2 separate regions of the Homo sapiens genome follow, and region 1 is reported to be linked to region 2. The links are microRNA targets in miRTarBase. Many come from high-throughput screens and were not tested one by one. Region 2 holds a microRNA gene; the other region holds the end of a gene's coding sequence.

Region 1 (7,352 bases), not on the chromosome of region 2:
ACAGCCTAATGAATGTATCTTTTTTGCAGGGGACTCCCTCAGCTATCATCAAGGACGCCCTTTCTCCACAGAGGATAGAGACAATGATGTTGCAGTGACTAACTGTGCCATGTCGTACAAGGGAGCATGGTGGTATAAGAACTGCCACCGGACCAACCTCAATGGGAAGTACGGGGAGTCCAGGCACAGTCAGGTAAGCGATGCTCCACCTCTGCTATGAATGAGCCAGAGCTGTGGAATCCGTGCTCCCTTAGCTTTATATTTTAAAAGCACATGTGAGTCCTTCATTTCCCTTTAAAAAGAAATATTTTGAGTCTTGAGAAAAATAATGCAGACAATGGGATAAGATCAGGACAGAGTAGAAGCCAGAGGAAGGAAAGGAAAGGACCCAGGAGCCAGAACTTACCCAGAGAAGCCCTTGGATCCAGAAGATCCCATGAAGAGAGCTTATCAGTCCTGGGGACAGCTTCACAGACTCAACTTTACCCTAAAAATGGTCCCAGGAAGGTAGACATCGAAAATACCAGTGTGAACTGGACAATCTTTCCCTATCAGAGACCACAAGTTTATAGGCTAAGCTGGGTGACAGGGAGACCACCATGACCAACTAGACTTTCTAAGTGTTAACACTGAAACAGCCCACATCAGGGAAGCCCTTCAGTTCTAGGCAAACCAAAAGGGTTTGTCACCCTAGGTAGAAACCGCCTAAGTCTCCCATTAGGAGTGAGCAGTCAAACACAGTTATTCTCTTCCAAATGCTTCCACCCTGTTGGGATTTCACAACCATCTACTGGTGCATGCCACTCCTGGAAGCCAAAAACAAAGCTGGCAATAAGGAATGACCTGCAACATGTTCCCTGGAAAGACCCAGGCCACCGGCACATTTAAGGAGAAAGCTAGAAAGAGACTCTGCCCCTTTCACTTTATTGGGAACTCGGCCTTGAAGCTTCATGTTAGCTGAAAATAGCTAACCCCACATTGTGGATTCCCTGTTCCCATAATTACCCCTTTTTTGAAGTGGGGCGTTCCATGGTGGGGGATGACCTGACATGCTTATCTTTCTCACGCCCAGGGCATCAACTGGTACCATTGGAAAGGCCATGAGTTCTCCATCCCCTTTGTGGAAATGAAGATGCGCCCCTACAACCACCGTCTCATGGCAGGGAGAAAACGGCAGTCCTTACAGTTCTGAGCAGTGGGCGGCTGCAAGCCAACCAATATTTTCTGTCATTTGTTTGTATTTTATAATATGAAACAAGGGGGGAGGGTAATAGCAATGTGTTTTGCAACATATTAAGAGTATGTGAAGGAAGCAGGGATGTCGCAGGAATCCGCTGGCTAACATCTGCTCTTGGTTTCTGCTGCCCTGGAGCCTGACCCTCAGTCTCCATTCTCCCTCCTACCCAGGCCTCCTCAACCTTCACCTCCTTTCCCACCAAGGAGGAGAAGTAGGAAGTTTTCTTAAAGGGCCAATTCAAAGCCAAGTCGTGGGGTGCAGATTGTTATGGTGACAGGCACACACATTTTTCTACCCTTCTTCTGAGATGTCCTCTGCCTTCCAGGTATTTGTGATTTTGTCACAGCCTGACATGGCCAGGTTCTCACACTGGCCCAGAGAAAAGAGCCTCAGCAAGAGAGTTTTGCCAACAATTCCCCTTAAAAGGAAACAGATCAACTACACCGCATCCCAACAACCCAGGTTCTTTTCCTTCCTTCCTTCCTTCCTCCCTTCCTTCTTTCCTGCCTTCCCTCCTTCCCTCCTTTCTTTCTTGACAGTATCTCACTCTTGCTCAGTCTGGAGTGCAGTGGTGCAATCTCAGCTCACTACAGCCTCGACTTCCTGAGCTTAAGTGATCCTCTCGTCTCAGCCTCTTGAGTAGCTGGGACTACAGGCATGAGCCACCATACCTGGCTGATTTTTCTTTTATTTTTTGTAGAGATGGGGGTCTCACTGTGTTGTCCAGGCTGGTCACAAACTCCTGGCCTTGAACAATCCTCCCACCTCAGCCTCCCAAAATGCTGGGATTACAGGCTACAGCCACTGCATCCAGCCCCAAGTCCTTTATAATGGGCCAAAGATTCTCATCTTCTGACACTCTTATTATACCAGCCACATGTCCTGTTACCTTTCAAGAACAGTGGCTCTTTTCTGGCCCTGATGGAGTCTTTTGCCTAATCCCATCCTGTCTTAGACCCCAGAGCCTCAAAAGCCCAACCAGCATTTTGGAATCTAGTTCCCAAGGCATTGCCTGCTCCTGGCCCTGGGTGGCACAGTGGCTATGTGCCTGTGAGTCATCAGCCACTGCCCCCACCCTCAGGTCAGACAGACAGTCACTTTCTGCAAAGGTAGGAGGGGGAGATGGTTGTAGTTTTTAGCACTTTTGGGTCAAGCATTGAGGAAAGGACTGAAGAAGTCAAAATCAGGGCACTGCCATAGAGATTATAGTTTCCATGGGAAACACAGATCTTCCCTAGCCCTGTTTTCTCCATTTCTGGTCCTATTTGTCACAGATTCTTTTTTTCTGAATTGCAAACCGAAGGCCTCATATCTATCTTCACCCAAGCCCTCCTTAGTGTAGGTGGCTTAATAAGAGTCAGGAGAAGAAGGTATATGCCCAGAGAGCTATACCCCTGACTGATAATCCTGGAAAGAGGTTGATTTTTTTTTTCTTTTTTGGTCCTATGGGAAACAGGAATGACCTTCTTAATGAGGTGAGATCATGAGAAGCCTTTCCATCTTCTTTTATTATTCTGCCTTGCAAAGGAAAAATGACAATAGCCAAAGGAAATTACATCCAGAAATCCAAAGGTGAATAGGTGATAACTGTGGGCCTACTTCCCATTTTATGAGATGCACTGTCTTCACTAGCACAATTTGATCTTAAGCCCAAGAGAGCTAGATGCTCTAGAAGCCGTGACCTTTCAATTTCTCCTCCAAATCCAATATCAGCAACCATCCCCGCAACATCTGCCCAGATCCATGCCCAGTTCCCTGAGCTGTCTTCTCCCTTTCCTCTCCCATTCCTCAAGGCCCAGCACCATTTTCTGTAGTGCCTATGTTTGTCTGACCAGAGCAGTGTGTACCTTTGCCAACCAGTTACTGGATGAGCCTTAGTGTCGGCAATTTTCTAATGGAAATATCCTCACTCTTACCAAGCTTTGAGAACCAAGATGAAAAGTCCCTTGGGCTGACCATCAGGCCTCGGACCTCATGGGGATGCAGCCAGCCACCATTGAATGGAGGCGCTTCCCTTGCCGCAGGCTTCTAGGCTTTGTTCACTGCGGCAGTGTGGATGTGACAGGCATAACCCTGAAAAACCTAGGCACCACTTGCATTTCTCAGTTAACCATGGGCTTCAACAAACTGGGAGGAGGAAAAAACAGAAACAGATCCTTTCAACAAGCATGTAAATTACAGAAGACTTACCTAGAGACGGGGCAACAATGAATAGTAGGAAGCACATTGCATGGGAAACTTGAGGGCCGAGGTACAGGCCAACAGCTGTCATCTTAGCTACGACATGACATCGGCTGGGTTGTTTCACCTCTCTGGGCCAGTTTCTTCATCTGTCAGATGAGAGATTAGACTAGAATGAGTTCTAATTTCCCTTTCAGTTTTGACGGTCAATGATGCTAATCTGTGATCTGAAAACCTAAGTAGAAATTGGCATGGTGGGACAGCACAATTAGGTAATGAAAATTCACTAGACTCCCTGTTTAATGAGGAAAGAAGGAAAGAAGGAAGGAAGGAAGGAAGGAAAGAAGGAAGGGGAGGGAGGGAGGGAAAGAAAAGAGAGAGATTGATTCAGGAGTCATAAGTAAAACACACACACACACACACACACACACACGAAAATACTGCAGAAAAGATCATGCCGAGTGAGAGGCTGAACTCTTTTTGTCCATAAAAACAGAGACCAGGTACCTGGGTGGTGCCAGCACGCCCACTTCATCAAGGAAGTTGAAATGGAAAAAGATTATGTGTTGTCAATTCAGGTGAAAGTCAAGAAACATCAGTGGAAACAAAAATCTTCCTTTTATTGAAACCATTCTACACTATGGAACATTTTTATAAATAGTACCAGCGGCATTGCATAGCTTTATTTTGAAGCAAGAAAGAGACTTCAAAGATCAGCTTATTCAACCCTCTATAAAAGGATTTATAGATTCCTTTTATTTAATAGGGTGATTTTCTCATGAGTTTTCACCATGTTTAAAAGACACTGTGCCCCACTCTCATCCCAAGGTCTATGGTCAACTTGACTCAATGCTCATAACTTTCCTCGCTGATTCCTGCTTATCCTGCTCCTCCAAGCACAACTGCATTTCCCAAAGGTAGATCCAGTAAGCAATACTCTCAAAGCACCCACCCTATGCACACCAGTTTCCCTCAAGGGACTCAAAAGGAATCGAGGTAGACCCTTCTCAGAGGCTGTTTAACTACAGACACATCAGGATATGTACTAATACCCAAAACCAAAACCACCACCAATGACTGCAATAGATTCACTGTCTAGACCCAAGGTCCAGGCAGTTTCCCTTTTTTGCATTTCCCCAACATATAAAGATAATTTCCAACATATCAGATGCACATTCACCAGGGTTATTTCTGGAAGGTGAAGGGGTCAGGTGTAGAAGAGGTGGCAAGAATGACAAGTCTGTGGAAAACTGTTGGCCTTGAGACCACAGTGAACTGGTGGAAGGGGACTTGCTAAGTGTGGCCACAAGGTGGCAGTCACCTCCTGAAACCCCGTGTGAAACGTCAGCGGGGTTGAGAAAGGCCACGTCTCCAAGTTTCCAGGAGAGCCAAACCAGGACTCAGGAAAACCGGCCAGCTGATTTGTATGGGAGATTGATTTGTAAAAGAACAACAACAACATATGGCAGCAAGGAAATGCAAAGCAAACATCTACAAATATTTGAATCCACCTGTCCCTCACCTACCAACTTCCCCCTCTACTACTCATAAAGTGGTAGGACTCCTAATGCCCCGCTTCCTTCCACCTGAGAACCAACCAGCACCCTGATATTTCAAAGCCAGACCTAAAGAACCATGGTTGCCAATAACCTCAATGCCAAACCAAACAATCCTAATCACATTTTTACTTTTCAAATCCAGTCTCAGAGCAGAGCTGTAGATTAAGGGACAAAAAGTCATTGTGGAATCTTTTCAAATAGCTCTTGTAAAAGCATCAGTTGGGAAAGAGTTTATGAGTTCCTCTTTGTCCTCTCCTCTGGAGAAAAGACAGAACATGCAAGAACACTAGATACACCAAGCTATGGGTGTTGAAATAGACTAGCTGGTGACCTGGATTTGCAAATACCCTAGGGACATGAAAACATTTTTTCTTTTTCTTTTTCTTTTTTGTAACCTCCACCCAGAATTTCAGGAAAGGTGGGGCCACATGCCCAGGATATATGGTATTCTACTGCTTGCTTTCTTATCACCAGAATACTAGTCAATCTGATTTCTTAGTTCCATGTCTTTTCTTCCAAGGAGGTAGGGCATGGGGTTGGGGGACACTTTCCGCCTTCCTTGCATCTCACTGTCCACTCTTAAATTTTTATTAAGAAACCTCTGAAAGATTCAAAATTCAGTTCAGTTTCAATAATCCCAAAGAAGTTGGGATAATTTGTTTTCACTTGCTTCAAACTTGCCACGGCTGCAGGAGGAGTCTCAGGACCTCAGAGGAATGGGGCAGATGTGTGAAGTCTGGGAGTCTGCCTCCCACCCAGATGCCAGGAGCTGCATACTCAGCTCTGCCTCACTTCCCTGATGGTCTGCTTTCATCCAGGTTACCATGACAGAGAGGGTCTATCCTCTAAAGAAAGCTGAGTTACAGGCTGGCCCCTGGGGTTGTTCCTGTAGCCTCTCTTTGACCACATTCCTGAAGATGTTTAGCTGAATGCCTCCTCAAACCTTTGCTTCTTCCATAACCCAATCCTACACATATGTGATAAAGCTTTCTTCAACAATACTGGGTCATTTGGACACTACCAGTCCAGATGAGAACTCACAGACCAAATGAAAACTTTCAAAAGCAAGCAGGGAAAGTAACTCCTATATGCTTTAAGATGATGTATTGGTGTAGATTCAGGTCCAATTTGAAAAAATGTCTCTGGTTCTTTCTAATTGTATCCACTCTGGATTTGTTTATGCCAGTTCTACATTCATCAAGCCTTGAGAAACAGGTGGAAAGAAGAAAAATATAAAATTAAGAAGAAGCTGATGGATCATTGGAGATTCAAAACAAGCCTTCTACCGGTGGCACCACACTGAAAGGCAGAGACAAGGCAGGAGCGGCCATGGGAGAGGAAGCAGCATTGGCTTCTCACGTTCTGGCCTCCAGCCTCCCACCAGAGCTTCTGCCATTCACCCACTTAACTTGAGGAGAAACTAAGGCACCAAGGCCTGTCACTGCACCGAAAACCAGAAGCAGAAGGACTTTCTTTCTTTGCTCAACCAGTTCTGCCTGGATCTGACTTTTGCGTCACCAGTAGTCACAAGCCTGATTTGTCATCTCCAGCATTCTGTTTATTTTTTTAAGGTCAATCTTTGCCTGAAACATGACTTCATTGCACCTGCAGCACTTCATTGTCCAAATGTCCTTGGCAAACCTCACAGTCTTTGGACAGTGTTGCATTTTCTCCAAAGGGGAAATCCTCTCTCCTTCCTCAAGCTTAATAAGGCTCTTGCAGTGCATCCAAATAACACAGCTCTTGTTCCTCAGACACACTCAGCCCCCTCTGATAACTTCATAAAACAGCTCCTTATTGTCTGGGCCATGAAGCCAGGCTAATGCTAAAGTTCCAGTTCAAAAACATTTAACTCTATTATCCTTATGAGGCCAGCTCTCCTGGGTACTGGCACTCACTCACTGGCACCATGGATTCAGGTCAGGTGGTGCAAACATCTTCCCTGAGAAGCAAGCCATACACCCAACAGGTCTAGAACACCTAGGTCACAAGAAAGGGTTTCAGTCCAGATGCACTGTCAGTAAGTGAACACAAGGACAAGAATGCATGAACTGTTATTTTCTTCCCATCACTGGTTTAGCAGCCCCTAGGGAGACCCTGTGTTGCTCTTTAATATTCTGACATGGAGCACTAATATGCTCAACACTGCCTCCAACAGGCAAATGTTGGAAATACACTTTCAGAGCTGGATGGGACTCAAGATCATCTAATATAATCCTCTCATTTTATTTCCTCTCAAGGAAACCAAGGGCAAGAAAGTTTAGGCAATTTGCTCACATTCACACAGGCAATTAGTAACAGAGCTGAGTTCGGGTCTGGTATAGGCTTTTTAATTTGATTCTCCACAAATGAACACTAAGATAAATAGCATTTAT
Region 2 (7,352 bases):
AACTCTTTGGAGAAATGTCATGCTTCACATTGGACTATGAATAAGATTAAAAGGGTAATTCCTATCCTCAAGTACTTATATTTTATTTTTAAAGCACACTTAAAAAATTTCACGTACCTTGTATTTTCAAAAACTTAACAAAAATTATTAGTTCTTACAATATTACAAATTAAGAAGTTCTTATTTTAGATGTGAACAGTTTTAATACAGTGTCATCTGGAGTTTGTTTCTTAATATTATAAGTCCTAACAGAATAGTTTATGCAAATAAGCTGTTAACTAAATCCTAGGAAATTAGATACTTAGTAAAATACATTTTACTAAGATTATTCATCCTCTATAATTTAAGATTTTCTAAAAGAGAGGAAGGAAAAAACGGAAAGAGACCATTTAAAAGTAACCTTTTGTTTTTTGAAATAGTATTTTTCTTTTGTGTTAATTTCACCTAACAACTCAACTTTCATGAAATTCTTACTCACTGCTTTACAAAATATATTTATCACTTCCATTTATCTACATAAATCTTTAAACTTACTTTGATAAATTCTCATTTTTAATTTTTCTACTATTTTATATGCAGAAAATTTATCAATGACTATTAAAGTCATACATTTGAAAACATTCTTAATTTTATGATACAGTCATCAGCGAATAGTTTACTTGATATCTCTCTACTCAAAAAAGTTAGAGTATAGAGATTTAAAGTCTCTATTTTAAAATTGAAAAATTTGATATCTCTCTATACTTAAAAAAATTTACTAATCAAAGGCAATATGAACTTTTTCTCCTTTGTAAAATCAATGTTAGACTTTTGTTTATCTACATACTACAGTATTTCAAGGAATTGATTAATATCCTAACACAGAGAATCAAGAGTGTGATCAACCCAACAAAATAAAATAAGGGGCAGTGGCTCACACCTGTAATCCTAGCACTTCGGGAGGCTAAGGCAGGCGGATCACCTGAGGTCAGGAGTTCATGACCAGCCTGGGCCAACATGGTGAAACACCATCTCTACTAAAAATACAAAAATTAGCCAGGTGTGGTAGCGGGTGCCTGTAATCACAGCTACTCAGTAGGCTGAGGCAGGAGAATCGCTTGAACCTGGAAGGCAGAGGTTGCAGTAAGCCGATATCGTGCCATTACACTGAAGCCTGGGCAACAAGAGCAAAATTCTGTCTCAAAATAAATAAATAAATAACAAAATAAGGGAGAACCAATGAAATACTTCAAATCAACAAACATCTTTAACTAAAACTATTTAGAATAATAGAAAAGACAATTTAAGTACTTTAAATGGTTAAATTTAAATTTATATACAAAATACTCCTACATGAACTATCACATAGAAAAATCACATTTAATGAACAATTTTCTTCACTATTTTTTATATTGGTAAACAGTTTCCATTTCAACTGTCAATATTTTCATTTTTCTTAATTATCTAAAATTGAACTTCTTTCATCAATCTCTACCCTCTTATCCTGCTATATTTTCCTTCAATGCATTTATTCATCTGATATAATACACATTCTTTATATTTATTGTCTCTCCACACCTCTCCCCTTACCCCAGAGACTCTATGAGAGCAGAGACTTGACTATTTTATTCCATACTATATTCCAGTTGTCTGATGTAGTTAGTACCTGGCATACAGTAGTATCAAGAAATATTTGTTGAAATAATAAAAAATACTGTGTAGTTTAGTACATACACTATTTTTCTATTACTGACGACTTCAAAGGCAATGTAAAACTCGTGTAATGGTAAACTGATTTAACAAATACTTATTACAACTCAAAAGGCTTAAAACTCTGAACATTACCAAATACTACTCAAATTTTCAAATTTCATATTCTATGAAACAACTTATACCACAACAAAGTCAAATCTTATGTTTTAAAAAATAGACAAGGTTTTGCCATGTTGCCTGGGCTGGTCTCGAACTCCTGAGCTCAAGTGATCCACCTGCCTCAGCTCCCAAAGTGCTGCAATTACAGGCATGCGCCACAGCGCCCAGCCAAATCTTATTTTTAAGCTAAGCATAGATTAAGTAGTTGGCTGAAAGCTCAATGCAGAATGTGCTGATAACAAAACCATCTTCGAGATCTAGGGTTTTTTTTCTTTAAAAAAACCCAATTGATGTGAGTTTAAATATAACATAATTAACTGAAAATCCTTTTATGACTTGAACTAGACCTGAAATTGTCCAGTGCAAGGAATATGACAATCATACAAAAAAAAGACTAAATATTAGAGATTACCAAAGAAATGCTAAATAAAGCATGGCAGAGCCAAATGATGAAATATTATTGTAGTATAAGAAATAATGTTTGTTAAGATTATTTAATAACATCAGAAAATTACCCTAACAGCAATTGAAAATTTGGCACATATTTTTACATAAGCATAAAAAAGAGTAAGGTAACAATGAAATATATTAAAACATCAATAGTCTTTAGGTGGTAAGATTATGGGCATAATAAGCAAACAACAAAATCAGTTATAAACCTGACACTAGCTATTAATTTTTTTACTATGGCACTCTGTTTTTCAGTCTGATTCATAGTCAGCACTTTAAAGGGTTGTAGATGAAGAAATAGAATTATGGATCCTTTATTCTAGTAATAAATGATTTGGTTACATACCTTCCCACACTTCATGTGTTAGTATCTTACCACTGCTGTAACAAATTACTACAAACTTAGTGACTTTAAACAACATCCATTTAGTATTAATATCTTATAGCTTCTGTAGGTCAGAAGTTCAAACATAGCATAGTTCAACTTAGTTCTCTGCTTAGGGTCACACAAGTTTAAAATCAAGGTGTCAGCAGGTTTGCATCTTTCTCTGAAGAAGAATCCATTTCTAATCTCATTCAGGCTACTGGCAGGGTCTCACACTGTCGCCCAGGCCGGAGGGCAGTGGCATGATCATGGCTCAACATAACCTTGAGCTCCTGGGCTCAACTGATCCTCCCACCTCAGCTTCCAGATAGCTAGGACTATAGGTGCACACCACCACGCCTGGCTAATTTTAAAAAAAAATTTTTTTTGTAGAGACAGGGTCTTGCTATGTTGCCCAGGCTGGACTCAAATACCTGGCTGCAAGTGATCCTCTCACCTTGGCCTCCCAAAGCACTGAGATTTCAGGCATGATCCACCTAGCCAAGCCAAAACTCAGTTCTTTATGGTTATAGGACTGAGATCCCTGTTCCCCTGCAAACTGACAGCTGGCATTTAACCTTAGCTCTAGAGGCCTCTCCCCAGTCTTTGCATGTGGCTCTGTATATGTTTTTAAATTGTATATATTTAAAGTGCACAACAGTGATGTTTTGATATACTGTACATATACAGTGAAATAATCACCATAGTCAAACAAATTAACATATCTATCTCCTCACTCACTTCTCTCTCTGCGTGTGTGTGTGTGTGTGTGAGTGTGTGTGTGTGTGTGTGTGTGTGTGTGTGTGTGTGTGTCTGTGGTCCTGAATATTTTAGAAGCAGCAATGGCTTGTCAAATTCTTCTCACACTTGAAATTTGTTTTACAGGGCTTATCTGATTACACTGGGCCTGCCTGAATAATTTCATCATTTTTACTGGTTCCAGAGATAAGAGCATAGACATTCTTAGGGGTTTATTATTCTGTTTACCATACCATCTATTTCTGTTGAGGCCGAACTATATTGCCTTATTATGACACAGATTAGGACCAGTGATCCCATGAAACTGGAGATAAAAATTGGGGTTTTCCTAACTTGAGAAAATAATAGTTTCAAAGTCCATATCTTTAACCTTGTGCCAACATTCAAGTGATGAGTTGCAAGGTTTAGGGAAGAAGGAGAAGAAAGGGGATGATAATGATGATAATGATGATGATGGTGATACTAAAATGGGGAGGTAAATAAAAATTCAGTTCCATGTGATTAAGCACCACAGTAGCAAAACTTGATTATACTCGAAATCAAAATGGCAATTCATTAAAACTACCAGATTTTAGTGCCCGATGTGTGGGCATATCGTACCCTTCAAAACACCAGTTCTGAAAGTCTTAAACATTTAAAATCCAATTCAATCTTTTTCCAATCATCAAAATATTATTCAATATTACTTTCAAATGCCTTTATAATGGTTTCACAATTAGCGTGTTAATGTTACTGACTAATGTTACTGACTAAAGTACTGTTTCCTGAGTACTTTACGGCTGATAATAGTTTTTCAGGCCAAATACCCTTTGATGGAACTTCAGAGGTTAAGATAATTTTGTAGTTTGAAGAATTCCAAATGTTTTGAGAGAGAGAGAGAGAGAATGGGTACCAAGTGATCAGAACACAAACAAAACACTGACAACAATTTTGTCAAAACCAAAGATTCTGAAACTGAATGAAAAATTTCTGACCGGAACCTAATGATTCATCATTCTCAAATACTGTTAACTTAAATATCTGAGTCTGATGAATCATTAGGTTCCAATTGGAAATTTTATCTAACTTCACATATCTGTATTTTTACTCAGATATGTGCAAAATAATAAAAACCAGGAGACAACTCAAAATCCTAATTATGAAAAATCAAAAGAACCAGAATTAGAAGTGAATGATTAAGTCAACAATTTTCCACCAATAATTAAATTTAAATCTTCCAAACATAATCGTTATTCACATATTTAAAGATTTCAGGTATGAGAGAGTTCAGTTTAGGACACAGACTACTGCAAGAGACTATTACTCCCACTCGAAAAATGAAAAAAAAAAAAAAACCATCATAATATTTTTTAAAGGTACCTAAGAGCTGAGTTGGCGAACCAACCAGGTAACCTGAATTCCAAAATGTGACAAGCCCCTGAGGACAGTGGCATACTGTCCTGCTTTACCTTTTGCAAGGCATGAAGAGAAGAGGTAGCAATCATGTAAGCATATAAGAAAAAAGAACTAAAATTTTACTGAATTCTTAAAGATTTCATACATAGAAATTGCAAGACATTTTGATAGAGAATAATCTGTAAAGTCCTTCCTAATAATAAAATAATTTCAAAAAACGAATAGCTAACATTTAGAATGTGTTCACTAAATTTTAAGCATTGTATTAATACTAGTACCTGCCAAGCTTTATCAAATTAGACCTCACAACCTAGTAAGAAAGGGCTGTTCGTTTCCTTGCTTAACAGAAAAAAAACAGTGCAGAGAGGTTAAGTAACTTGTCCAAGTTAACAGAGCTGGTGAATGGTAAAGCTGGGATTCAAATAGAGGCATCTTTACTACAGAGCCTGGATCATAATTACATGTCTCTTCTCTAATCTAGACATAGTTTCTTAATGCAATTTAAATTGCTTAATGATTTATTTTGTTCAGTCTTCACAGGGAACAAATTAGAAACTTTCTCCCATTTCTTTTAGATATATCAGGACAGAATGCTTAGTCATGTTTAATAAAGAATTTAACGCAAACTTTTTACATTACAGATTATACTACTATTACTTGATTTAAGGGTAATATATGACTGTACTCTACATGGGAAAAGTGGAAAACATAGAGTAAATTAGAATCCGTTTGTTCTTGCCCCAAGCTGCCTATCTTAGAGCATTAAATTACAATGAATTAAAGATCTACTTAGTTCCAAGCACCATTCATTCATTTAGCAAATATTTACTGAACGCCTACTATATGGTGAGCTCTGTTCAAGGGGCTGGAGATAGAAAAATCCAAGCAAAGTCCCTGCCCTTAAAAAGTCTAGTGGGAAGAAACAGGCAATTAAAAAAAATACATTAGGGGGTGATAAGGGTTATGTAAACAGGTAGCTGCCACCACCACAGAGACTATCAGTTCTGGAAATACATTATTCAAGATTAGTTTGGCTACACATAACAGAAAAGTCCAATATAGTACAGACTTATACAATGCAGAATTTATTTCTCGTGTAAGTCTTGAGATAGGTGGTTATGGCAAGTTAGCAGATTATCAGAGGCCCAGGCCCCTTCTATAGTCCACATCCTTAGCAGGTGGCTTTAATCCTTATGTTCCAGGACAGATGCTGGAACTCCAGGAATCCTATCATCATCTAGACAGCAGGATGGAGAAACAAAGAAGGGTGGACCGTCTTCCTTTTAAAGAGATGTAAGAATCGGCTGGGCACGGAGGCTCACGCCTGTAATCTCAGCACTTTAGGAGGCTGAGGTGGGTGGATCATCTGAGGTCGGGAGTTCGAGACCAGCCTGACCAACATGCAGAAACCCCGTCTCCACTAAAAATACAAAATTAGCCAGGCGTGGTGGCGCATGCCTGTAATCCCAGCTACTCAGGAAGGCTGAGGCAGGGGAATTGCTTGAACATGGGAGGTGGAGGTTATGGTGAGCCGAGATTGCGCCATTGCACTCCAGCCTGGGCAATAAGAGTGAAATTTCTTCTCAAAAAATAAAAATAAAATTAATCAGAAAAAATAAGATACATCAGTAGCAATCACAATGCAGTTCTTTATGACCAGATAGCAACCTCTATGTACCTACTAATCTCGTCTTCAATGGACACAATTCCTTACGTTAAAAAGAATCTAATGTACCAATTTAAACTTGCATTTATTATATTAAGGCAATAGTCATGATTAGAAGGAAGGCAAAAAAAAATTATTCCCATATTAGGAAGATGAAGTATGTCTGTTACCGGGGCAAACTATCAAACTGAATTTCAAAACTGACAGGCTCTCCCTGAAGTCCTAGAGAGGATCTTGTGTTCACTAATTCAGATGTTGCAAGTATTCTAGTTCCCAGGTAACTCCTAGTAAAACCAAGACTGAACAAAGATATTTCTCATCTTTAAATTTAGAATCATCTCATCGATTAAACCTTCCTATCTATGAGATCTATATCTGAAGTGGGCTCTCCCAATTATTTTACATCTCAAAACTGTTTATTCTCATTATGGCATCTTAAATATTTTTGTTTATTCTTTCTCCTCCATTAGCTTACAGGCTCTCTCTGTTTTGTTCCCTTTCCTGAAGGAAACTATAATTTTTTGTGTCAAAAATATTTTCTCCTATGAGTTGCAATCTTCAGGGAAAGGACGTAGCTTCAAACAAAGGCAAATGCTTTCTCCTTAGCCAAAGTAACATAAAGGTCACTTTCTGTAAAACATCAGGATATTGCATTTTAAAATGCTTTCCATATAACATTAGTTTGATGAACGGCTTAGCCTAGGATTCTGCACCTAGTTCCAATCAAAACCAAGTTGTGAACAGATCCCTTCTTTACACCAATCTCATCTTTCAAGAACGAGCTAAAGGTTCATGAATTCCTTCCTCAAGAGGCAGTTACTTTTCAAGCTAAGGACCAAGCTTGAAACAAGCATATACCTGCACAAG

The links. Region 2 holds the annotated microRNA hsa-miR-580-5p (UAAUGAUUCAUCAGACUCAGAU, at 4,443-4,464, opposite strand). A microRNA usually pairs through its seed, bases 2 to 8, with sites in the 3' UTR of a target mRNA and lowers its output. Matches are read on the target gene's strand: a 7mer-m8 pairs with bases 2 to 8, a 7mer-A1 pairs with bases 2 to 7 and ends in A, and an 8mer does both.
Region 1: the mRNA of TNR is a reported target of hsa-miR-580-5p. The part of its 3' UTR that is shown has no 7-base or 8-base seed match.

The regions. Positions count from the first base shown.
Region 1 is chr1:175,317,197-175,324,548 of GRCh38, reverse strand. It overlaps TNR (tenascin R), which reads left to right. Exons shown (of 23, transcript NM_003285.3): 22 at 30-193; 23 at 1,073-7,352. The coding sequence ends at 1,192. It overlaps LOC105371623 (a long non-coding RNA gene), which reads right to left. Exons shown (of 4, transcript XR_001738302.2): 2 at 3,428-3,567. Among named protein-coding and RNA genes, the nearest start is that of KIAA0040, 130 kb to the right of the region's middle.
Region 2 is chr5:36,143,504-36,150,855 of GRCh38, forward strand. It overlaps MIR580 (microRNA 580), which reads right to left and starts at 4,485; the gene lies at 4,389-4,485. The region is part of intron 1 of LMBRD2 (LMBR1 domain containing 2); the gene reads right to left.